Homo sapiens: one gene and its partners. The gene in region 1 interacts genetically with each later gene. Each region holds a gene or a part of one and is shown on either strand. Other genes may lie near its edges.

The links.
Region 2: changes in RABGEF1 (region 1) and SLC33A1 together harm fitness more than expected from each alone (negative genetic interaction), as found in Homo sapiens cells (one large-scale study listed by BioGRID).
Region 3: changes in RABGEF1 (region 1) and SLC39A3 together harm fitness less than expected from each alone (positive genetic interaction), as found in Homo sapiens cells (one large-scale study listed by BioGRID).
Region 4: changes in RABGEF1 (region 1) and UBE2J1 together harm fitness less than expected from each alone (positive genetic interaction), as found in Homo sapiens cells (one large-scale study listed by BioGRID).
Region 5: changes in RABGEF1 (region 1) and RAB2A together harm fitness less than expected from each alone (positive genetic interaction), as found in Homo sapiens cells (one large-scale study listed by BioGRID).
Region 6: changes in RABGEF1 (region 1) and EZH2 together harm fitness less than expected from each alone (positive genetic interaction), as found in Homo sapiens cells (one large-scale study listed by BioGRID).
Region 7: changes in RABGEF1 (region 1) and DCAF7 together harm fitness less than expected from each alone (positive genetic interaction), as found in Homo sapiens cells (one large-scale study listed by BioGRID).

What each region holds. Positions count from the first base shown.
Region 1 is NC_000007.14:66,792,733-66,796,232, reverse strand, and holds part of RABGEF1 (rab5 GDP/GTP exchange factor), read right to left. Parts: intron 723-3,500; coding exon 641-722; intron 1-640. UniProt on the Homo sapiens protein: Rab effector protein acting as linker between gamma-adaptin, RAB4A or RAB5A. Involved in endocytic membrane fusion and membrane trafficking of recycling endosomes. Stimulates nucleotide exchange on RAB5A. Can act as a ubiquitin ligase.
Region 2 is NC_000003.12:155,823,428-155,826,927, forward strand, and holds part of SLC33A1 (acetyl-coenzyme A transporter 1), read right to left. Parts: 3' UTR 1-3,500. UniProt on the Homo sapiens protein: Acetyl-CoA transporter that mediates active acetyl-CoA import through the endoplasmic reticulum (ER) membrane into the ER lumen where specific ER-based acetyl-CoA:lysine acetyltransferases are responsible for the acetylation of ER-based protein substrates, such as BACE1.
Region 3 is NC_000019.10:2,734,521-2,737,017, reverse strand, and holds part of SLC39A3 (zinc transporter ZIP3), read left to right. Parts: coding exon of another isoform or gene 1-78; exon of another isoform or gene 79-2,492; intron 2,493-2,497. UniProt on the Homo sapiens protein: Transporter for the divalent cation Zn(2+). Mediates the influx of Zn(2+) into cells from extracellular space. Controls Zn(2+) accumulation into dentate gyrus granule cells in the hippocampus.
Region 4 is NC_000006.12:89,339,223-89,342,722, forward strand, and holds part of UBE2J1 (ubiquitin-conjugating enzyme E2 J1), read right to left. Parts: intron 3,234-3,500; coding exon 3,102-3,233; intron 1-3,101. UniProt on the Homo sapiens protein: Catalyzes the covalent attachment of ubiquitin to other proteins. Functions in the selective degradation of misfolded membrane proteins from the endoplasmic reticulum (ERAD) and is essential for cells to recover from ER stress.
Region 5 is NC_000008.11:60,589,987-60,593,486, forward strand, and holds part of RAB2A (ras-related protein Rab-2A), read left to right. Parts: intron 1-1,871; coding exon 1,872-1,983; intron 1,984-3,500.
Region 6 is NC_000007.14:148,809,088-148,811,291, forward strand, and holds part of EZH2 (histone-lysine N-methyltransferase EZH2), read right to left. Parts: intron 1,328-2,204; coding exon 1,246-1,327; intron 304-1,245; coding exon 223-303; intron 69-222; coding exon 1-68. UniProt on the Homo sapiens protein: Polycomb group (PcG) protein. Catalytic subunit of the PRC2/EED-EZH2 complex, which methylates 'Lys-9' (H3K9me) and 'Lys-27' (H3K27me) of histone H3, leading to transcriptional repression of the affected target gene.
Region 7 is NC_000017.11:63,556,977-63,560,476, forward strand, and holds part of DCAF7 (DDB1- and CUL4-associated factor 7), read left to right. Parts: intron 1-3,500. UniProt on the Homo sapiens protein: Involved in craniofacial development. Acts upstream of the EDN1 pathway and is required for formation of the upper jaw equivalent, the palatoquadrate. The activity required for EDN1 pathway function differs between the first and second arches.

The DNA of each region.
Region 1 (3,500 bases):
TTAATACAATAACTCACCAAAATGGTGATTCCAAGATGGAAAATTCATTTAGCAAAGCCTTCCAATAAGTTTTTCTCTTTCTCTCTCTCTTTTTTGAAGACAGAGTCTCGATCTGTTGCCCAGGCTGGAGTGCAGTGGCACAGTCTCAGCTCACTGCAACCTCCGCCTTCCGGGTTCAAGCAATTCTTGTGCCTCGGCCTCCCGAGTAGCTGGGATAAGAGGTGCACCACAACACCCGGCTACTTTTTGTATTTTTAATAGAGGCGGGGTTTCACCATGTTGGCCAGGCTGGTCTCGAACTCCTGGCCTAACGTGATCCGCCTGCTTTAGCCTCCCAAAGTGCTGGGATTACAGGCATGAGCTACTGAGCCAGGCCCTAAGATGTTTTCGTCAGCTCCAGCCCTGCCCCAATGGAGTTATTAAATGTTACTCAATAAATTATCCAATTGCTCCTGGAAAGATACGCATGGTACAGTTCAAAGGCACTGCTAAGTATAAGACCAGTTCCCAGAATGTCCATGAGGTTACAGGATGAAGTCTACAAACCAGCCAGACCATCAGAGAAAGAAAGAAATTGCTAAGAGACTGAGCAGTCATCCCTGTGCAATACCCGCAATCTCTCAATGGCTAACAGTGTTACCTTTCCCACGAGTTTGCATCCTTTCGGCCACATTGTGGTAGAAATCCTGAGCACACTCTGACTGTTCTTCAATGCTTAGATCCTGAAACAGAGAGACAAAGAGGCTGCTTGTAGCTGAACAAAGTGCAGAAGCACAGCTCTACATTCTAAGAACTTTCCAAAAGCCATTCCTTGTACTGGTAGTAAGCCTAAAAGTACTCACAGGTTATATTAATCCTGCAGGAGAGTAAAACCTATCCATTAATATTATTTCCAATATCCATTGTTGCCGGACTTTTCCTTAGTTCAGCTAAAGACGGGATCCTTGTCCGTCTCACAGCCACAAAAATTTAGGCTCGCAGGCGGTTTGAATGGTGGGTAAGACAGGGTTTTATTAGGTGAAAAGGAAGAAAAGGGGGAATCCGAGACACTCACAAGGCCAGAGTCCCTGCTAGAGTGCTTCCTGCCAGCAGCTAGAATCCTGGGCTCCACACAGAAAGAAGAGGGGCCAGGCTCCTCCCTGCTACAAATGGTGCAAACTTCCCAAAACTCCACCCCGGTGGGCAGGCTGGCTGGAGTTTTTCCGGGGACCCCTTCCCACCTAGCGGTCTCACCATGACCATCTCATTCTTTTTGCTAAATCTACGTATTCTTAAATAGATTTAATGCATGTTTTGATAATTTACATATTTTATGTACATTTCTATTTATCTAATCCACTGAATCATTTCTGGTGGCTTTATAACACTGCATTATATTAACTGACTTCTTCGACTCTCCTCTACCACTGTGCATTTGAGTTGCTCCCCCTCTTTCACTGTTGTGCACTGTAGGTATAAATAATTTTGTAAGGACTATCTTCTTTTCGGTTCTCTGTCATACATTTCCAAAAGTGGCATTAACCGCTTAATATGAATAAACAATGTTATAGCACTAAGTATCTATTGCTAGCCACACTCCTCAGAAACTCAGTGCACACTGTCATTAACCACGTGTATGCACTTACTTCCCTATGGCCCTTACAACATTGGGCTTGATAATTTTTATTTGGTTTTACTGATTTTATAGGTGTAATATATGTATTTGTTTCTCACTTTCTGCCAAAGAATATTTAAAGGCTATTTAAAAGATAAATGCAGTTCAGCACAAGAGACTAGAAAATAAAAAGAATAACAAATAACTGTAATCCCAGTGCTCTGGGAGGTTGAGGCTAGAGGATCGATTGAGCCTAGGAGTTTGAGGCCAGCCTGGGCAACATAGTGAGACCCCATCTCAAGAAAGAAAAGAAAAGAGAAGAGGAAAGAAAGAAAGGGGAGAGAAAGGAGAGAAAGGAAAGAAAGAGAAAGAAAGAAATTAAAAAATTTTTTTAACAATAATAAGTAAAAAAAAAAAAAAAAAAAAAAAAATTAAACATGGAGAGAGACCTAAAGCAGAGCCACAGATGACAAGACAGAAATGTTTTCCTGGAAGATGTCTAAATTAGTCAAGAGTCAGCCCATACATCTGTCTCTAACTAAATTTTTTAGCAACCATCACTAGGATGAAAACAGTTATGTAATTCAGGGTTCAAAAGATGAAAGCAAACAAATTATTCGGGTGAAATTCTGACACCAAAATCAAAAATTTCTCCCAACGGTTCTCATAAGGATGTCACAGTAGAAGAACATGAATAAGGCCGAGAACAAACCCCCAGGACGGGCTGTCACAGACTTCATCTACACAGGCCACTGACCTCACACGCCAAGGGCCGATACATCCTGTGGAAGCCCACAGCAGTCTGACCATCTGGCTTAACTCTAAAAGGATGGCAGGACACTTGGGGTCAGGAGCAGTCACCTCATTCCCTCAGTAAAAATGGCCAAGCACTCATGGCACTTTGTGATCACCTTGACTGCAGCCCTTGTTACTGTCAACTAGTTACCCATATACATGCACACACTGCAGTGCTCAAATCTATCCTTCTACTTCAAGTATTTTATGCAAAAGCTTATCCATTCAATCTTTTTAGGTAGTTTACACATGGTTTTACACCTTTCATTTGCACCAAATTTTAGCACTTAACTTAGAAGAAACTATATTCATTCTTGTGATTATTACTACAGATTTGAGCATTCCTAACCCAAAAATAAAAAATCTGAAATGCTCAAAAATCCCAAATTTGTCAGTGTCGACATGACACCACAAGTGGGAAATTCCACACCTGGCCTCATGTGATGATGGGCTAGAGTCAAAAAGCAGCCAAAACTGTTACATGCACAAAACTGCTTAAAATGTGGTATAAAATTACCTTCAGGCTATGTATGTAAGGCATATATTCAACAAATGAATTCTGTGTTTGGACTTGGGTCCCAGTCCCAAGTTATCTTATATATGTGTAAATATTCCAAAATCTGGGAAAACCCCAAAATCTGAAACACTTCTGGTCCCAAGGCTCTCGGATAAGGGATACTCAACCTGTAGTGCTCGCTTCCAACTAGAAACTCTCTGAGCTCCTTTTAGAGACCCGAGAGGCCTGTCTTACTGGTGTCAAGGGATCATATTCTCCTCCCCCAGCCCAGCACAACCCCTGTAATTTTACAATACAATGCCGAAAACTCCTTTTCTATTTCTACTGCAGTTTATGCTCCAGTACAGTATTGCTTTCATAATGTAAAAGAACTCACCCCTGCCACTGTCTCTCATCCTGCTTTCCATTCTTGTAGGACTTAACACTATGTTACAGATCTGCTTATTGTCCATTTCCCCAACTAAAATGTTAGCTCCACAAGGGCACTGTTCACCACCATATCCTCATGCCTAGAACAAGGCCAGGCACAGGGTTAGTGCTCAGTATGGGTTGAATGAATAAATGTGGCCATTTATTACCATTCCTCCCTTTATA
Region 2 (3,500 bases), on another chromosome or scaffold:
AGGAGGCCAAGGCGGGAAGATCACCTAAGGTCAGGAGTTTGAGATCAGCCTGGCCAACATGGCAAAACCCCATCTCGACCAAAAATACAAAAATAAGCTGGGCGTAGTAGTGCACATCTGTAGTCCCAGCTACTTGGAAGGCTGAGGCAGGAGAATCGCTTGAACCCGGGAGGCGGAGGTTGCAGTGAGCAGCTTGGGCAACAGAGCCAGACTCCATCTCAAAAAAATAATAAAATAAAATAAAGTAAAAAGAACATGGTCTGCAGTAGGTGTTTTTGTTTTGTTTTTGTTTGTTTGTTTTTGAAACGGAGTCTCGCTCTGTCGCCCAGGCTGAAGTGTAGTGGCGCAATCTCAACTCACTGCAAGCTCCGCCTCCCGGGCTCAAGCAATTCTCCTGCCTCAGCCTCCCTAGTAGCTGGGATTACAGTCGTGTGCCACCCTATGCCTGGCTAATTTTTGTATTTTTAGTAGAGACGGCGTTTCACCATGTTGGCCAGGCTGGTCTCAAACTCCTGACCTCAAGTGATCCACCCACCTCGGCCTCCCAAAGGGTTGGGATTACAGGCGTGAGCCACCATGCCCAGCCTGCAATAGGTATTCAAAATCCTCCCTAAGAGAAAATAATTGTGCCTCGCTATCTACCAAAGACATTGGTTAAAAAAAAGTCTCAGCAGTTACAATGTACAGTATCACCTTCCCTTCTGTAACCAAAATACTTATTAAATATATGAATGCTAGTTATCAGATTATTTTAAAAGTTTATTTTCTTTCTCTAATAATAAGGTAAAATACATTTTGGAAATCTGCATGGAATGTTCCCAACAAGTTATTTCATTTTAGCAGGGTCTATGACATACAGCTTTAGTCATTCTTTCAATTACTTGGAACCACAGAATTCTCCAAAATACAAAAATTAAATTTTCAGCTTTTATATCAAATAATGGTCTCAACCATTTAATACAAAGCAACATACTTTCTCAGGTTTCTGTTAATAAGGCAAAATAAAAGTCACTCAGAAAAAAAAGGTTAAATCATGAAGATTTCTCTTTTGTAGGATATAATTCACCCCTGTGGTTTCTCTTCTACCATTAATGTCTTATCTACTCTAATTCCTTCAAAGTTTCAAGTTCAATACAGTATAACATATGCAGAGATTTTATAGTTTTTATCATAGATTTTTTTTTTCAACATTGTTTTCAGGATGTTTTAAACACTTTCACAACTATTACCTCAGATTTGTGATTATGGCTTATAGTACGGTCTACTTTCAAAACCATGATTTTTGGATCATGGCCCATCCAAGATTTTACTCTGTTCAGAAAAAGAAAAAAAATTACATATCCAGAGTTTCACAAGCAATTCAGGGGTTTTTCCCACAGACATCAAAAACCTTGCAATAAAGGGGTGAAATCCAAAAATTACTTTCGATTTCAAAGGTTTAATATTTTTAAAAAATTGAGAAATCTATTTAAGGTGTTGAATAAACTTTTTATGACTTATCAGGCAAAATTAAAATATTTATCATGGGCAGGGCACGGTGGCTTACACCTGTAATCCCAGCATTTTGAGAGGTCAAGGCTGGACGACTGCTTGAAGCTATGAGATTGGGACTAGCCTGGAAAATATAGCGGACCCCACCTCTATAAAAAATTATTATTTTTTATTAGCTGGGCATAGTGCTGTGTGCCTGTAGTCCTAGCTACCAGAGAGGCTGAGGTGGAAAGATCCTTTTTTGTTGTTGAGACAGGGTCTCACTCTGTCACCCAGACAGGAATGTAGTACCACAATCACTGCTTACTGAAGCCTTGACCTCCTGGGTTCAAGTAACCCTCCCGCCTAAGCTTCCCAAGTAGCTGGGACTACTGGTGTGTACCACCATGCCTGGATAATTAAAAAAAAAAAAGAAGTCATAAAGACAGGTTCTTATTATATTGACCAGGTTGGTCTTGAACTCTTGACCTCAAGTGATCCTCCTGCCTTGGCCTCCTAAAGTGTTGTGATTACAGGTGTGAGCCACAGCATCCAGCCTAAGGAAGATCCCTTGAGCCTAGGAATTTGAGGCTGCAGTGAGCTATGATTGCATCACTGTACTCCAGCTTGGGCAAAAGTGAGACCATGTCTCTAAAAAATAATAATAAAATAAAATAAAGTATTTACAATGGAAGGAATCTGTGGTGTTACTTTTAGGTAATCTCAGAAGAACTTTTCAAACTCAGATGTATATATGCGGCAACCAATGTGCATATGGAGATACTGACATAGAGAGAAAAATGTTCAATCTAATATTAGCCAGTAAACATATGATGCATTAACTGGAGGAGTTAAAAGTCCATACTTGAAGGTACTGTTTAATTTATCAGGATCAATCAATCAAGAAAAACACCCACAACATAAAAACAGGGTGGTATATTTTAGTACTACTGATTTATAATAAACAGATCCTCAGATTTAGGCAGATCATTTTTAAATGCCATTAGTGATCAATGTATGCAACACAGTTGCACATAGCTATTAACAAGTTATTTTGACATGCATTACATACATGTATTCAAATTAACTATAATTTTTTGTGCTTATTTCTAGAGCAAATTAATTAAATGGCTTTCACCTTAAAGGCTTAAAATGTTTTAAAACTTCAAGTCATTAAAGATGTACTGACATTAAAACTATGTTTGAAGGCTGGGCGCAGTGGCTCATGCCTGTAATCCCAGCACTTTGGGAGGCCGAGGCGGGTGGATCACTTGAGGTCAGGAGTTCAAGACCAGCCTGGCCAACATGGTGAAACCCCATCTCTACTAAAAATACAAAAATTAGCCGGGTGTGGTGGTGTGCGCCTGTAGTCCCAGCTACTCAGAGGACTGGGGCAGGAGAATCACTTGAACCCAGGAGGCAGAGGTTGCAGTGAGCCGAGATTGCACCACTGTACTCCAGCCTGGGTGACAAAGTGAGACTCTGTCTCAATTAAAAAAAAAAAAAACTATGTTTGAAAGTATATATAATTTGTAATAATATACACGGGAAGAAATAAAAGGTTATTATGGCAATCTGAGTTTCTTAATCCAAAAATTAAAAATCAAAACACATTTCATATGTAAGAGTTAAGTGGTTTTTTTTCTTTATTCAAGTAATCATTTAGACTCTAATACATGATAATGGACAACCATGTGACAAAGTACTGTAGTGTATGGTTTGGTGTAGCCTCCTTGCCTCTAGGATGGGATTTTTTCCAGGTGATTCTTCAGGATCTGACATCGATGCCCAACACAGGCTTTCCAATGGCAATGCATGAGTTCTAGAGGTCACTGCCCCATCTTTCTTCAGGTGCTGTGTGCCATTTTCTCCCACCCATTTTATCCTCCATTACTTATAAAAACCCCACTCTAAAATTCAACCTATGTTATAAAATTAACAAAATCAGGAGTTAGTACACATTTTTCCACAATGATAAAATTAAGACTCATAATGTACTATCTTGTTTCGTCTAACTTTTGGAGGATTTA
Region 3 (2,497 bases), on another chromosome or scaffold:
CTTGGCACCTTATGGCCAAGGGACTCTGATGCATTTTCAACACTGATGCCAAGTTCAGTGAAGGCCTTGATGCTGTAAGGGTGACGGAAAGTAGGAAGTGAATTTGCTGTGTGATTGTGAACTGGTTACTTTCTGTCTCTGTGCTCTACCGGCCAAACAAGGGGTTTGGACCAGACCTGGGATTCCCAACAGGTGGACTTGTCGGTTGTCACCTGATAATCAGACCAGACTACCCACCTAGGTAGGGCACACTCTGTCCTGAAGCTGGAAAGCATGGCCTCTCTTCGGTTCCTATATCAGTCAGCTACTGTTGCGTAACAAATTATAGCAAACTGAGCACCTTAGGACTACAGACGTTTATCATCTCACAGTTTCTGTGAGTCAGGGGTCTGGGCACTGCTTCAGGAGCTCACAAGGCAGCAGTCACAGTGTCTCCTGGGCTGTGGTCTCATCTCAACGTTCAACCGGGGATGGGTCGGCCTCTAAGCTCATGTGGTTGTAAGCCAGGTTCAGTTCCTCATTGGTTGTCAGACCGAAGGTGTCTGTTTGTCAGTGTCTGTTGGCTGGGGCAGCCCTCAGAGCCTGGCCACGTGGACCTCCCCAGCATGATCAGTTCCTTCATCAGCAAATGGAGAAGATGGCCATGACTCTGTGTAAGACAGAGGGCACAGTCCCATGTCATGCAGAGGTGACAGGGTATCCCTTCCCCTCTGCCCCAGTGTCCTGCTGGTTAGAAGCAAGTTCAAGTCCTTCCCATACTCAAGTGGCCAGGACCTCACAGGGTATGGCTGTCAAGAGGCAGGGGCTTCTGGGGCCATCTTGGAGTCTGTCCACCCCAACTCCTGACAGCATCATCCTCTGCTGACCTGTTCCTTGAGCTCCCCCATATCAGCAGCCCAGAGTGTGGGTCCCCTGTCAGGCCACAGTGTGACCAGCCCTGGCCATGCTTGCTGGGTGACCCTGGGTGAGTGGCTTCCTCTCTCTGGGCCAGTGCCAGATGTGACATTGAATTTGTGTTGGTTACATACTTGGTGGAGATATGAGGACCCCCTGTTCTTCCTCCCAACGAAAGCATGGAAGCCCTAAGCTTATCCCCCAACCCCTGGCCCTGCTTTTCCTCGTGCCTAGTGTCCAGAAAGGAGGAGAAGGGCTGTTGTCTGGGATTAAATCATCTGAGCCTGTTAGTGTGGCAGAGTAGAGTTCCAGGGTGGCTCCCTGAGCTTCCAGCCCCTGCTCCGCACGCCCCATGCTCTTCCCTCCCCTCGAGTGTGGGTAGGGCTGGGACTGCCGTGCGTGTCACTCCTGCCATTATGTCAGAATCCCAGCAGAGGGGATGTTGCAGCTGTGATGACCGCCCCAGATCGGTTAGCGCTGAGTTCATCAAAAGGGAGGGGGTGGGCCTGGCCTAATCAGGTGAGCCACTCACCCTCCTGCTGGCCTTGGAGAAGCAAAAAGCCAGGGTGTGCCAGGAGAAGGGCATGAAGCGAGGACCCGAGGGCAGCCTCTCGGTGCCAAGAGCCATCCCCGCCAACAGCCAGCCAGGACACGGGGCCTCAGTCCACAGCCACCAGGAGGTGGACTCTTCCGACCTCCAGTGAGCTTGGAAGAGGACCCTGGGTGTCAGTGAGATCTCAGCCCTGATGACACCCTGCGAGACCTGGAGCGTAGGGCCCAGCTAGCCCGCACCTGGATTTCCACCGTTCAGAGCCGAGACACCGCATTCCTGCTGTTCCGCGTGGCTGAGTCTGCATTCGTTCGTTACGCGGTGTGTGAAGACTGACATCTGCACTGCGAGGATGGAGATCTTGGTCATCTCTGACATCTCCTGCATCGCAGAGGCCACTGCCAGCCCCCCTTTTCCCCCATGGTCATGGTGTCACCCCCGTCACCCTCTGACTGCAGGCCTGGGCGACTGCGGGGAGCTTGCTCTTCCCTCCCCCTCATCACAGTGGCCTTCTCATGGCACCCAAACCTTTCCCGCCGTTCTCCTGTCCTCGGGCTGGTCAGGCGGATGAGGTCCCTACTCCCGAGCCCCCAGCCTCACCCACTGCAGGGCCAGGCTCTCAGTCACCCCTGGAAAATGGTGCCTGGTTCACAGCTCCCGTGCATCTGCCTCATCTCTCCTGATCAACGTCTGTCTCTTGGGAGTAGCTAGAGTTCCTCATGAGCTTGTCCTCAAGCGAGGCATGCATGAGGCCTCCAGCCGGTGGTCAGTGAGGGAGTTAAGTGGCTTCTCCGTGGAAACACAGCCTTCTGCTGCAGCAGAGGCTCACCCAGCGTGAACTGCCCCCAGGGAACACTGGGCGATGCCTGGGGACATTGTGGTTGTCACGATGGGGGGTGCTCCTGGCCTGGAGTGGGTGGAGGCCAGAGACACTGCTCAGCAGCACCCTGCAGTGCCCAGGACGGCCCCGTCCCAGAGAACAATCCAGCCCCGAATGTCAGCACCTTCCCCCTACCCGAGTTGTGAAAATAAAAAATGTTTCCAGACATTGCC
Region 4 (3,500 bases), on another chromosome or scaffold:
AAGGCCAGCTTGAGCAACTTAGTGAGACACTGTCACCAAAAAAAGAAAAGAAAGAAAATTAGCCAGGAGTGGTGGCATGTGCCTCTAGTCCTACCTACTTGGGAGGCTAAGACAGGAAGATTACTTGAGCCCAGGAGTTCAAGGCCACAGTGAACTATGACTGCATTGCTGCATGCCAGCCTGGGTGACAGTGTGAGACCCTGTCCCCAAGAAAAGAAAAAAAAAGAGGAGAGGAGGGGAGGAGAGGGGGGGAGGGGGGAGGAGAGGGGATGGGGGAGGAGAGAGGGGAGGGGAGGGGGGAAGGGAGGGAAGTGGGGAGGGGAGGGGGGAAGGGATGGGGAGGGAAGAGGGGTGGGGAGGGGAAGGGGGAAGGAGAGGGGGGAAGGAGAGGGGAGGGGGAAGGGGAGGAGGGAAGGAGTGGGGGAGGGGAGGGGAGGGGAGAGGATTTACTAATGTCCTACCCTGTGCCTAGTATGGAGCTAGGCTCAGTTAAGAATCTAAAAGAGGCCAGGCATGGTGACTCATGTCTGTAATCCCAGCACTTGGGAGGCTAAGGTAGGAAGGTCACTTGAGGCCAGGAGTTTGAGACCAGCCTGGGCAACAAAGTGAAACCCTGTCTCTACAAAAAATAAAAATAAAAAAAATTTAGCCAAGCGTGGTATGTGTGACTATAGTCTCAGCTACTCAGGAGGCTGACGTGGGAGGATCATTTGAGTGTGGGACATCAAGGCTGCAGTGAGCTGTGATCATGCTATTGGACTCCAGCCTGGGTGACAGAGTGAGACCCTATCTCAAGTTAAAAAAAAAAAAAGAATCTAAAAGAGAAGACATTCAAGAGGCCAGGACGAAACCTAAGGACTCAGTATCACCTAACTAGATGTTAGTGAGGAAAGACATGGGGAGAAAGGCTCTGAGAGAGGTGTGATTTTCAGAGGAGTGATGAATGAAAGGATAAATAAATACTTATTGAATGAAAGTTGGAGAAGACTTTTCAAAAAAGAAGTGAACCAGAAAGAGTGTAATGTTGAAAATCAGGGCTGATTCTCAGCCAGTGTGGTTAGTATGACCATACCATTGGCTAACTATTGAAATATACCTGTATTTGTTGGTAAAGAGCTGCTGCTAACTACTGTCCTCCACCACCACCAGTCTCCCCATGCACCAGCCCCTCCCTCCCCGAAGACCACTTAGCTCTCCCCATGATCTAGCAACTAAATAAAATGACTCCTGACACAGTAGAGTGTCTCCAGGACCCTGCTCCAACTCTACTGCCAGCATTAGCAGTTCTCTATATCAGCTAATACTTATTAAGCAGCTTCTATATGTCAGGTACTTTATGGTGTGATTACAATTACCAAACACAACATTCATTTTGACTGATGAGAAAACAATTTTAAAGACATTGTGTAACCCACCCATAGTGTAATGGAAAGAGCACCAGTCAGAATCTAGGCCTATTGGCTCTTAAACAAATGTTCTCTCTGTTATACAAAATAGAGGTAAAAGCAGCATTAATTTGGTATTTATTTATTTATTTATTTATTTATTTATGTTTTTTTTTTTTGAGATGGAGTCTCGCTCTGTCGCCCAGGCTGGACTGCGGACTGCAGTGGCGCAATCTCGGCTCACTGCAAGCTCCGCTTCCCGGGTTCACGCCATTCTCCTGCCTCAGCCTCCCGAGTAGCTGGGACTACAGGCGCCCGCCACCGCGCCCGGCTAATTTTTTGTATTTTTAGTAGAGACGGGGTTTCACCTTGTTAGCCAGGATGGTCTCGATCTCCTGACCTCATGATCCACCCGCCTCGGCCTCCCAAAGTGCTGGGATTACAGGCGTGAGCCACCGCGCCCGGCCTAATTTGGTATTTATTGATGAATACCTGTTGTTTCACCATTTGCTACTCCGTGTGGGTAAGATGTTTAACTGAGAACAGGATGAAGGCTGAGGAGAAGCAGTGAGATTTCTCAAACTGGTCTCTGAGATTGGTGTAGTTTCATGTTTCAACAGGGCACTATGTGTGGAAGGTGGACTGCAGCAGGCCAAACTACGGAAAGGATGCCTTGGAGGTTACCAAAGAGAAAAATAGGCACAGCTTAAAGTGATAACAGATACAGGGAATGGTTTTTGTGTTTGTTTTTGCTTTTTTCAAGGTTAGGGGATAATTAAACATAGTTAAAGGAAATGAGAGAAGAAAAGCTTAACAATTAAAGAGGAATTAGATCAATAGTTTTCCTTGGCCAGGTATGATGGTGACACCTGTCATCCTAGCACTTTGGGAGGCTGAGATGGGAGGACTGCCTGAGGCCAGTAGTTCAAGACCAATGAGACCATGTCTCTACCAAAAAACTTTTTAATTAGCTGGGTGCAGTGGCATGTGCCTATAGTCCCAGCTACTCAGGAGGCTGAGGTGGGAGGATAGCTTGAGCCCAGGAGTTTGAGGCTACAGTGAGCTATGATCGTGCTACTGCGCTCCAGCCTGGGCAACAGAGAAAGACCGTGTCTCTTAAAAAAAAAAAAAAGTTTTCCTTCACATGAAGAAAAGATGTGTAAATTTGGAGAGAAAGAGAGAAAATCTGAGATATAAACAGTAATAATAATGCTAACACTTATTGAGTATTCTGTGTCAGGCTCTATTCTAAGAGCTATACAATAAGATCTTGATACTTTTCATCCCACATAAACTCAATGAGGTAGGTATCATTATTCTCATTGTAAAGATGAGAAAACTGAGGAAGAGAGTGTAAGAAAGGTGGGAAGTTAAAGGAGACAATATGATTACAAGGTACAATAACATTAGCTACCCTTTAGTGAGTACTTATGAAGTGCCAGATGTGTATGCCCAGCACTTGGCATATATTAATTCATTGAATCCTAACAACCATGATATGACATTTATGCATTCAGTTGTATCATTTTTACTTCTCAGATGCATCAGCTTCCTAGGAATTATTTTGGAGGAAAAAAATTGTAGTCCCAGGGCCTGGACCCCAAAAGCAAAATTATACTGTTCTATTATTTCTTAATGAAAATGATTTGCTTACTATATTTTGCAGCTACCAGGAAGAGTGAAGCCACAAGCACTCTAAAAATCCAAAATTCTTACCGTTAGGAGAATAATGCTTGGTGGTTTCATGGGATACTCTGGTGGCAGTACTATCCGCCCGTGATAAACTCCTCCATCAAAATCGGAGTCTGGGGGCCCTCTAACCGTGAAGTGCCATTCAAAAAGGTTATCCTGAACAAAAACAATAATCCACAAGGAATTAATAATATTGAAAAGTTTGATCATTTTATCTGAATATTAGAAATATTACCAAGCAAGAAAAATTAAATGCTTTATATTATTGCTAGTATAGTTTCTAATGCATGAGATGTCTCGAGACTATAAGTGATAAATTAAATTTATAAGTAAAAGCTATTTAATCTAGCTTTCATGTTCCATTGAGCTAAAATATTTTATAATAAACACATTAAAAATTTCTGAGTGTTGTTATATATTCAT
Region 5 (3,500 bases), on another chromosome or scaffold:
AGTCTCACTCTGTCGCCCAGGCTGGAGTGCAGTGGCGCGATCTCTGCTCACTGCAACCTCCGCCTCCCAGGTTCAAGCAATTCTCCCGCCTCAGTCTCCTGAGTAGCTGGGATTACAGGCACCCACCATCATACCCAGCTAATTTTTGTATTTTTGTAGAGACGGGGTTTCACCATGTTGGCCAGGCTGGTCTTGAACTCCTAACCTGAGGTGATCCACCCGCCTTGCCTCCCAAAGTGCCGTAATTACAGGTGTGAGCCACCGCACCCGGCCTATTGTTTCTTTTTTTAAAAAAAAATTCTGATTATTTCCTACTGAGTGATTTTTACAATTCATTGAGTCATGACACAGTTTGAAAAATCCTACCCAGGCTTAACGCAGTGTCTCAGTCCTGTAGTCCTAGCAATTGGGAAGGCCAAAGTGGGAGGATCACTTGAGTCCTGGAGTTCAAGACCAGCGTGAGCAACATAGTGAGACTTTGTCTCTGAAAAAATTAAAAAAAAAAAACTGCCCTGGAAAAGCCTTGGCACGTGTATACACAAATATATATATATATTTTATATATATATGTAAAATACATATATTTTAATATATGTATTTTATATATATATAATACATATATATATAATGCTTATTGTAACATTGTTTGTAATAATGAAAAATTATAAATAACTTTGCCTTATAGAGAATTTAAGTTGTATTGCATTCATTCAGTAGACTGTAATTCACCAGTTTAAAAACAAACTAGATCTGCATGTATTATATGGATAAATTTGAAAAACATAGTGTTGACCAAAGTTAACAAGTTGTAAAACAGTAGCTACATCTGAATTTTTAAAGACATGAAAAAGAAATACTATTTATGGTTATAAACATGAGGATAAATGCAAAAACATGCATGAGAATGAAAACACCAAATTTAGGTAGTGGTTACCTTTAGGGTAAGAGGGAGGAGAGTGGGATCAGAGACACACAGGTGGTGATTCTGCTGTTGCTGATTTTATTTCTTAAAGGGAAAGAAACCTGAAATCTGGCAAATAATATGTCAAGGCTAGCTGGAAGTATGTGGACATTATATTATACATCTTTTTTCATGTATAAACATGTAATAATAAATAATATATAAAAAGTAATAAATATAATAATAAAGTTTTTTAACTTTAAAAATAAAACACGCTTTAAAAGCAACTGCTACCTCCCCTCCCCCCCACTAATAAAATTCTAGTATGATAAAAATGAATACCCTGCTTTCATTGGAAATTTCTAGCTTACACTTTCTCTCTCACTCCGTTTCTCCTTTTCTGTCTCTCTCTACTCCTTCTCCCTCCCTCCCTCCCTCTCTCTCTCTGTCTATATCAATTTTGCTTTAAGAGGAAACTGGGAATTAAACAAACTGGGATCAATGATGTAATGTATCTTTAGTACTTTGGATTTTCTAAACAATTTCCTGTAGTTTCTGAGAGTTGTATTTTAATCACATTCATAGAAACTCAGTCAGTCTGGCCAATGGAGGAGAATAGTATAGTCCTGCTCTTTCAAATTATGTTAAGCAAAATGGCTTTCTTCTCTGGGAATGCACTGTACTCAAAGATATAAGGTATTAGACTAGAGGCTCCCTTAAGTTACGGCTAGTTCTAACGTTCTAAAGCTCTAACACAGAATCTTTCTTCTGTTGGATTGTTAGTTCTTTGAAACTAGACAGTGTGTTCTAAATACTAACCCTCATAATACCCTGAATAATACAGTTAGTATGTTAAAAATTAATTAAAAGAATGGTCATCACAACTTTGAATTCCATGGTACACTTTCCACAAATGCTTCTGTTTGTACCATGTTGATTAGTAATGTGACCCTTTCTTTCCCATGTTTAGTGATTTAGAATCTAGAAGAGAAGTAAAAAAAGAAGAAGGTGAAGCTTTTGCACGAGAACATGGACTCATCTTCATGGAAACGTCTGCTAAGACTGCTTCCAATGTAGAAGAGGTAAATAAGAGGCCCTTTAAAATCTTCATCTTTATACTTAATAGAAATGTTTTATATATCTTCATTTTACTTATTATTTAAGTTTTTAGTCGGATGGTCTTTGAACATCATAAAGTAGGAAAGTTTCTTCCCTTTGAAATCCCTTGTAACATTCACCTTCTGTCAGACTCTTAAATCATATTGAGCCTTCTAAAGCCTGAATGTTTTCTTACATTTTTGTACGTATTTTCACTCCCTCCCTTTTTCTAAACAATTTCCTATAGTTTCTGAGAGTTATATTTTAATCACATTCATAGAAAGTCAGTCTGGCCAATGGAGGAGAATAGTGTAGTCCTATTCTTTCAAATTATGTTGAGCAAAATGGCTTCTCTGGGAACCCACTGTACTCAAAGATATAAGGTATTGGACTTCTTCGTGTTGCATGGTAGGGAAATCTTTTTTGTGTTGCATGGGAGGGAAACAAGGAACCACACTAATGAAATTTGGAAATGTTTCAAGACAGCAGAACGTTTGTAGCTATTTATATCCACTTCTGCTTATTTTTTTAATTTTATTTATTTTTTTAACTGTCAATATATTACCACATCACCACTTCTGCTTAAAGTATTCTATTATTGCTGTGTAACATTTTACAAAGCATGAGAATTCTGTTTCATCTATTGATGAAATTTGTATTATTTCAGTTATTTCCATTGATGAACCTGAACTATTGGAACTTTTCTGAACACAGTGTATTCTTTTATGCTCTATGTGTTTGTGTTTGGAGGTAGTATGTATATACATATTATAAATAGATGATTACGTAGTTGATCCTTTCTAAGGTAAATGTATTACTATACTGTTATTTTATAAAAAGAGGTAATGAAGCTAAGAAAAGTAGTAGTTTATCCAAAGTAATACTTAGTTCCCGATTTCTAGATAAGAACAGCTTATAAGAGCAACTACAGAAAGTAGTTCTAAAAAACAAATGAGTTAAGAATCACTGCCGTAAGGATAACAGAGGTCAGGGTCCTGGGCAACAGCTAGCATGTGCCTTCAATGTAGTAAGCAGTCAGTAAATATTTATTAAGAATGATACTTGGAGCTCTTCTGATTAACCCTTGAACCTAAAAATTGACTACAGTAATTCTACAGCATTGGTATTTTCACCGAAGAATTCTTTCTTAGGTAAAATATTATACAGTCATGTGTTGCTTGACAAAGGAGATACATTCTGAGAAATATGTCACCAGGTGATTTCATCGTCACGTGACCATCATAGAGTGTACTTACATAAGCCTAGATGGCATAGCCTACTACTGCACCTACTACACACTTCCCTTAGTAGACCTTGGTGCCAGAGGAATGACACAGTGATGATTTCCCTTGGTTTTCTTTTTGCCACATACCCGAGACTGGGTGCTAGAGAAACAGGCAACCTAGAAAGGTCAACAGGCACAGAAAAAGAAAGTCTTCTAGCCAGAGAACCAGGAAATAGGCAGGTCAGAACAGTGTTCGCAAGCCAGAACACTCTTAGA
Region 6 (2,204 bases), about 82 Mb from region 1:
CTCTTCGCCAGTCTGGATGGCTCTCTTGGCAAAAATACCTATCCTGTGATCACCGTTAACCATCATAACTGCAAAGAGACACACTGGTGTCAGTGAGCATGAAGACGGGCCACGGGGGGTTAACTGACTTGTTCACATAACAAACAACTATCCCAGAAGTATTCAAGTCCATCATCACAGGACTGAAAAGGGAGTTCCAATTCTCACGTCAAAGGTACCTACCTTTTGCATAGCAGTTTGGATTTACCGAATGATTTGCAAAACGAATTTTGTTACCCTTGCGGGTTGCATCCACCACAAAATCTAAAAAGAAAAAAGTAAGCACAGCCCAGTGAATAATTTCAGTTATAAGTAAACCAAGTTATTATGATTTTGTAAATGCAACTGGTTACAGTTCTTCAGGGTTTGCCTGCAAAAGCAAATAAATCAAGCAGCTTCATTCAGTAAGAAATGACATTTGGAAGAACACACTATTGTTCCAGGTTAAAATTAATCACCTATAATTCAAGATGGTTATCTGACTCAAAAGCTATTAATTATCAACTATAAACATACATTACTGAGCAAAACATAGCAAAAAAAAAAAAAAATCTGACAAAATTCTTCCAAACATCACGAATAGGCATTTTCACATTTAAAATTAGTTTTTTTCATTATAATGTCTATAAAGCATTCATAGAAAAAAACCTATTCTACTTGTTCCAACTAAGAGTTTCTCTGAATATCTTACATGTTAAGCCTACCTCCATTTTCACATAATCCCACCAGAAACATCCCTACACAGCCTTACATTCTACCCCAGAACATCAGCTATGAAAGCAGCTGCCTTTCCTCTCAGTCCTTTGAGAATATCCAGGGGAGTCTGGAAGATGGTTGCAAATGCAGTGCTCCTCCCCTCCTTCCCCGCTCAGAGGCACTGACTGGAGGAGGTGTGCTGAGCTGCCTGAACACAAGAGGTGAGGTGAGCAGCAAGAGCACAACGTCCCCTTCACAGCCAGATGCTGGGATAGTGCCACCCACAGACAGCCGGGACTCCAGAGAGGCGGTTTCCTGCACATCTAGTCTATCTGCTCCCTGAGGAATTCCTTGCTCCAGTTCCTTTCAAGCAAGCAGCCCCCCATGCCTCTAAGGAGATCCTCCTTCTGGTCACCTCACTGACCTCTACCCTCGTTTCTGAACACTCGGCCGGCAGAAGGCTGCCACATGCAACTCAGGAACTCACTGCCTCCCAGCTCTGAAACATACCATTGTTCAAGTTGAACAGAAAGCTGCACATGTATTTATCATACACTTTCCCTCTTCTGTCAGCTTCATCTTGAGAAATAATCTAAAAAGAAAGACACAGGAGAAAATTCTTTTGGATAAAGGTGATCAAGCCTGACAGAACACACAAAAGCGCACAGAGTGAATACTGGACCTTCTGGAGAAAACGCAACAAAAAGGGTCACTACAGCCAAGTTCTCTTTCCCATTCGGTCTGCGCAGTAATAAAGAATAACTGTATACTAAGGACCCCAACTCAGAAATATTTCCACATCCTGAAGTAATTATCCTTGGAGAAAGTGAGGAACCAAAGTCTTTTTGCTGAGTTTTTTAAAAAAGCCGGCTGCAGTGGCTCACGCCTGTAATCCCAGCACTTTGGGAGGCCGAGGCGGGCAGATCACCTGGGCGCGGTGGCGCATGCCTGTAATCCCAGCTACTCGGGACACTGAGGCAGGAGAATCGCTTGAACCCGGGAGGCTGAGGTTGCGGTGAGCCAAAATCACGCCATTGCACTCCGGCCTGGGCAACAAGAGCGAAACTCTGTCTCAAAAAAAAAAAAAAAAAAAAAAAAAATTTGGGTGAGCTGGTTCCAAACTGAAGCTAGGCCTATGATTTTTCGGTAACACTGTCGACAATTTAAAAGGTGAATAACTAATGACGTTGTTGTTTCTAGGTCCTTATCAACTAGGTTGTGGATTAAGCAGGCCACTCTATGGTAAAGCTCTTGTTCTCCCTGTTGTCCCTAGACGAGAAAAACTAAATGTGGCTAGAACCAAGCAATCCTGTTTTGTTTTGCTTTTTTTCCCCTCTGAGACAGGGTCTCACTTTGTCGCCCAGGCCGGAGTGCAGTGGCACAAACATGGCTCACTGCAGCCTCAACCTCCCAGGCTCTTCCAGGCTCAAGCGATCTTCCTGCCTCAGCTCCCAAGTAGCTGGGACTAC
Region 7 (3,500 bases), on another chromosome or scaffold:
AAGATCTTGCCACTGAACTCCCGCTGGGGTGACAGAGCGAGACCGCCATCTCAAAACCAAAAAAACAAAACAAATGGAATCAGCACAATAGCTGTAGAAAGATGCTATTAGAAAGGATGGGGGGAAATGGAAAATAAGTGGCAGATAAAGTACCCATACTAAAAAGATGTCTTTAGCTTGGTTGAAAAATAATTGTCAGTCCTACCACTGTGAGTTCAAAGAACTTAAGAAAATACAGAACTTCAAGCAGAGATATAGAGGATTGGGTAAAATAAGGCATGGCAAAGAGAAAATATAACATCAGCTGGCAGAGCACACAGGAAAGTAGTGGAAGAGAAAACTAAAATTATCACAGGATTAAAAGCCACATTGGAAACAGAATAAAGGCTGGGCACAGTGGTTCACTCCTGTAATCCCAGCTACTTGGGACACTGAGGCAGGAGACTTACTTGAACCTGGGAAGAGGAGGTTGCAGTGAGCCGAGATCATGTCACTGTACTCCAGCCTGGGTGATGAAGTGAGACTGTCAAAAAAAAAAAGAAAGAAAGAAACAGAATAAAGATGAACACACAGTGCTGAAAACAGTAAAGGTTAGGGAGGACAGATTGAAAAATGAAACTGAAGAAAACAATGAGAACATAATAGATGCAGAAAGTAAAAGAGATCTGACGTAAGTATAATTGGTGTCCCTCAAGAAGAGGACCAAAGAAATGAAACAAACTCAAATATATGGTTAAAGAAGAACTTAGAAGTAAAGATTTGAAGTGATAAGTTCAAATTGGCATGATTTGAACTTGCCAAAGATTTGAAGTGATAAGTTCAAATTGGCATGAAGTGATAAGAAAAATTGGCACTGAACAGTTGGCACTGAAACATTTCCTAGGAAAATTTCTTTTTTAAAAAATTTATCTTATTTTTCGTGTGTTTTGTTTTGTTTTGAGACAGTGTCTCACTCTGTTGCCCAGGCTGGGTGCAGAGGCATGATCCCAGCTCACTGCACTCTTGACCTCCTAGGCTTAATCGATTGTCCCACCTCTGCCTCCCGAGTAGCTGAGACTACAGGTGCACACCACCACGCCCGCTAATTTTTGTATTTCTTGTAGAGGCAGGGTTTTGCCATGTTGCCCAGGCTGGTCTCAAACTGTGGGCTCAAGTGATCCACTAACCTCAGTCTCCCAAAGTGCTGGGACTACAGGCCTGGCACAGAGCCTGGCATCCCTAGGAACATTTCTATGTTTTAAGGATGAAGAAAGAATTATTTGGACACCCAGACAAAATGATCAAGTCCTCTTTAAGAGGGGAAAAGAAATTAGGCTAGCTACATTTGATGACAGAAGGCCATGGAGCAATGTCTAGGAATGTACAAATACTGTAGATTGTGCTGCTATAAATACTTGGGGATATACTTAGGCATATGTAAGGTTTATGTGGAAATAATAATGCTGGGGAACACAAAACAATACTCGAAAAATGGGAAGGTATTCTCTTTTCTTGTATAGTAAAGCTTGGTATCCTAAAGATGTCAGTGTCCCTAAACTTAATGTAATCCCTGTTTAAAATACCACAGTTGTTTTTTCTGGAGACAGGGTCTCGCTCTGTCGCCCAGGCTAGAGTGCAGTAGTGTGAGTATAACTCACTGTAACCTCAAACTCCTGGGCTTAATCAGTAGGTGTCTCACTATGTTGCTCAGACTGGTCTTGAGCTCCTGACCTCAAACAGTCCTCCTGCCTGCCCAACCCAAAGTGCTGGGGTTACAGGCATAGGCCACCATACCTGGCCAAAAATACTCCAGATTTTTAATAATGGTTTTTTAGAACCAGGCAAACTGATTGTTTCTACAGATAAATTTTACAAACATGCACACATTGTCAAAAAACTTCTGAAAAGGTGGACTAATGATGGATATTAAAACATAATGCAAAGATATAATAAATAAGATCGTTTGATACTCTAAGAACTGATGTATAAACAGAGTCTAGAAATGAACTCAGAATACAAAAAGAAATGTAGTCTGTGCTAAAGGTGATAGGAAATGAAGAAAAAATATTTTTAAGGCCAGGCACAGTGGCTCACGCCTGTAATTCCAGCACTTTGGGAGGCGGGGGCAGGCAGATCACGAGGTCAGGAGTTCGAGACCAGCCTGGCCAACATAGTGAAAGCCCGTCTCTACTAAAAATACGAAAAATTAGCCAGGCATGGTGGTGGGCACCTGTAATCCTCGCTACTTGGGAGGCTGAGGCAGGAGAATCACTTGAACCCAGGAGGTGGAGGTTGCAGTGAGCCAAGATTGCATCATTGCACTCCAGCCCGGGTGACAGTGTGAGACCCATATATATATATATATGTATATATATATACATACATATATATACGTATATATATGTATGTATATATATATGTGTATATATATGTATATATATATGTATATATATGTATATATATACGTATATATATATGTGTGTGTATATATATATATATATATTTTTAATAATTGGTATTGAAACCAGAAAAAAAAATTGGATCTCTACCTTAAGCTTTGTACCAGCCGGGTGCAGTGGCTCACACCTGTAATCCCAGCACTTTGGGAGGCTGAGGCGGGTGGATCGCCTAAGGTCAGGAGTTTGAGACCAGTCTGGTCAGCATGGTGAAACCCTGTCTCTACTAAAAATGCAAAAAGTAGCCGGGCATGGTGGCAGGTGCCTGTAATCCCAGCTACTCGGGAAGCTGAGGCAGGAGAATCGCTTGAACCCAGGAGGCAGAGATTGCAGTGAGCCGAGATGGCACCATTGCACTCCAGCCTGGGCAACAGAGTGGGACTCCGTCTCAAAGAAAAAAAAACCTTGTACCAGAATTCCAGATAAATGGAAGAATGTAAACATATAACTGTAAAACACGGGAGAATCTTGGTGTGAGAAAGCCATGAAAGTAGAAGTAAACTATATAAAAATAAAATCTCTGTAACAAAACCAAAGTCAAAAGATAAGTGACAAACTGAAAAAATACATGTAATGTCCTAGACAAAGAACAAATCCCTTAATAACTGCATATAAAGATCTGCAAATCACCAGGAGACCAGTCACCCAGTAGAAAAAGAGAAATAGATAGGAAGAGTTTCCAGAAAGGATATGTAAATGATTCTTGAACGTATGAAGAACTGAACCTCATAAGAAAAAAAAAAAATGGAGTTTCAGCTAGATTAGGAAAAATAAAAAACCGTGGTAATCTACTGTGTGTGTGTGTATACACGTATGTGTAGCTTTCCCATGCAGTTGCTATCAAAATTTAAATTGGCATTATTTTCCACCTGGTAGTTCCGCTAGTGGTAATTCATCCTACAGCTATACTCATGTGGTTGAAATGACTAAAGTGCAAGGATATTCATTTTAGCATTATTTGTAAAAGAAAAATATGAAAATATTATTATTAGGGAAATTGTTGAATAAATTATGCTACCTCCATGCAGCTGTTAAAAGAATGAGCTAGCTTTTCATATACTGATA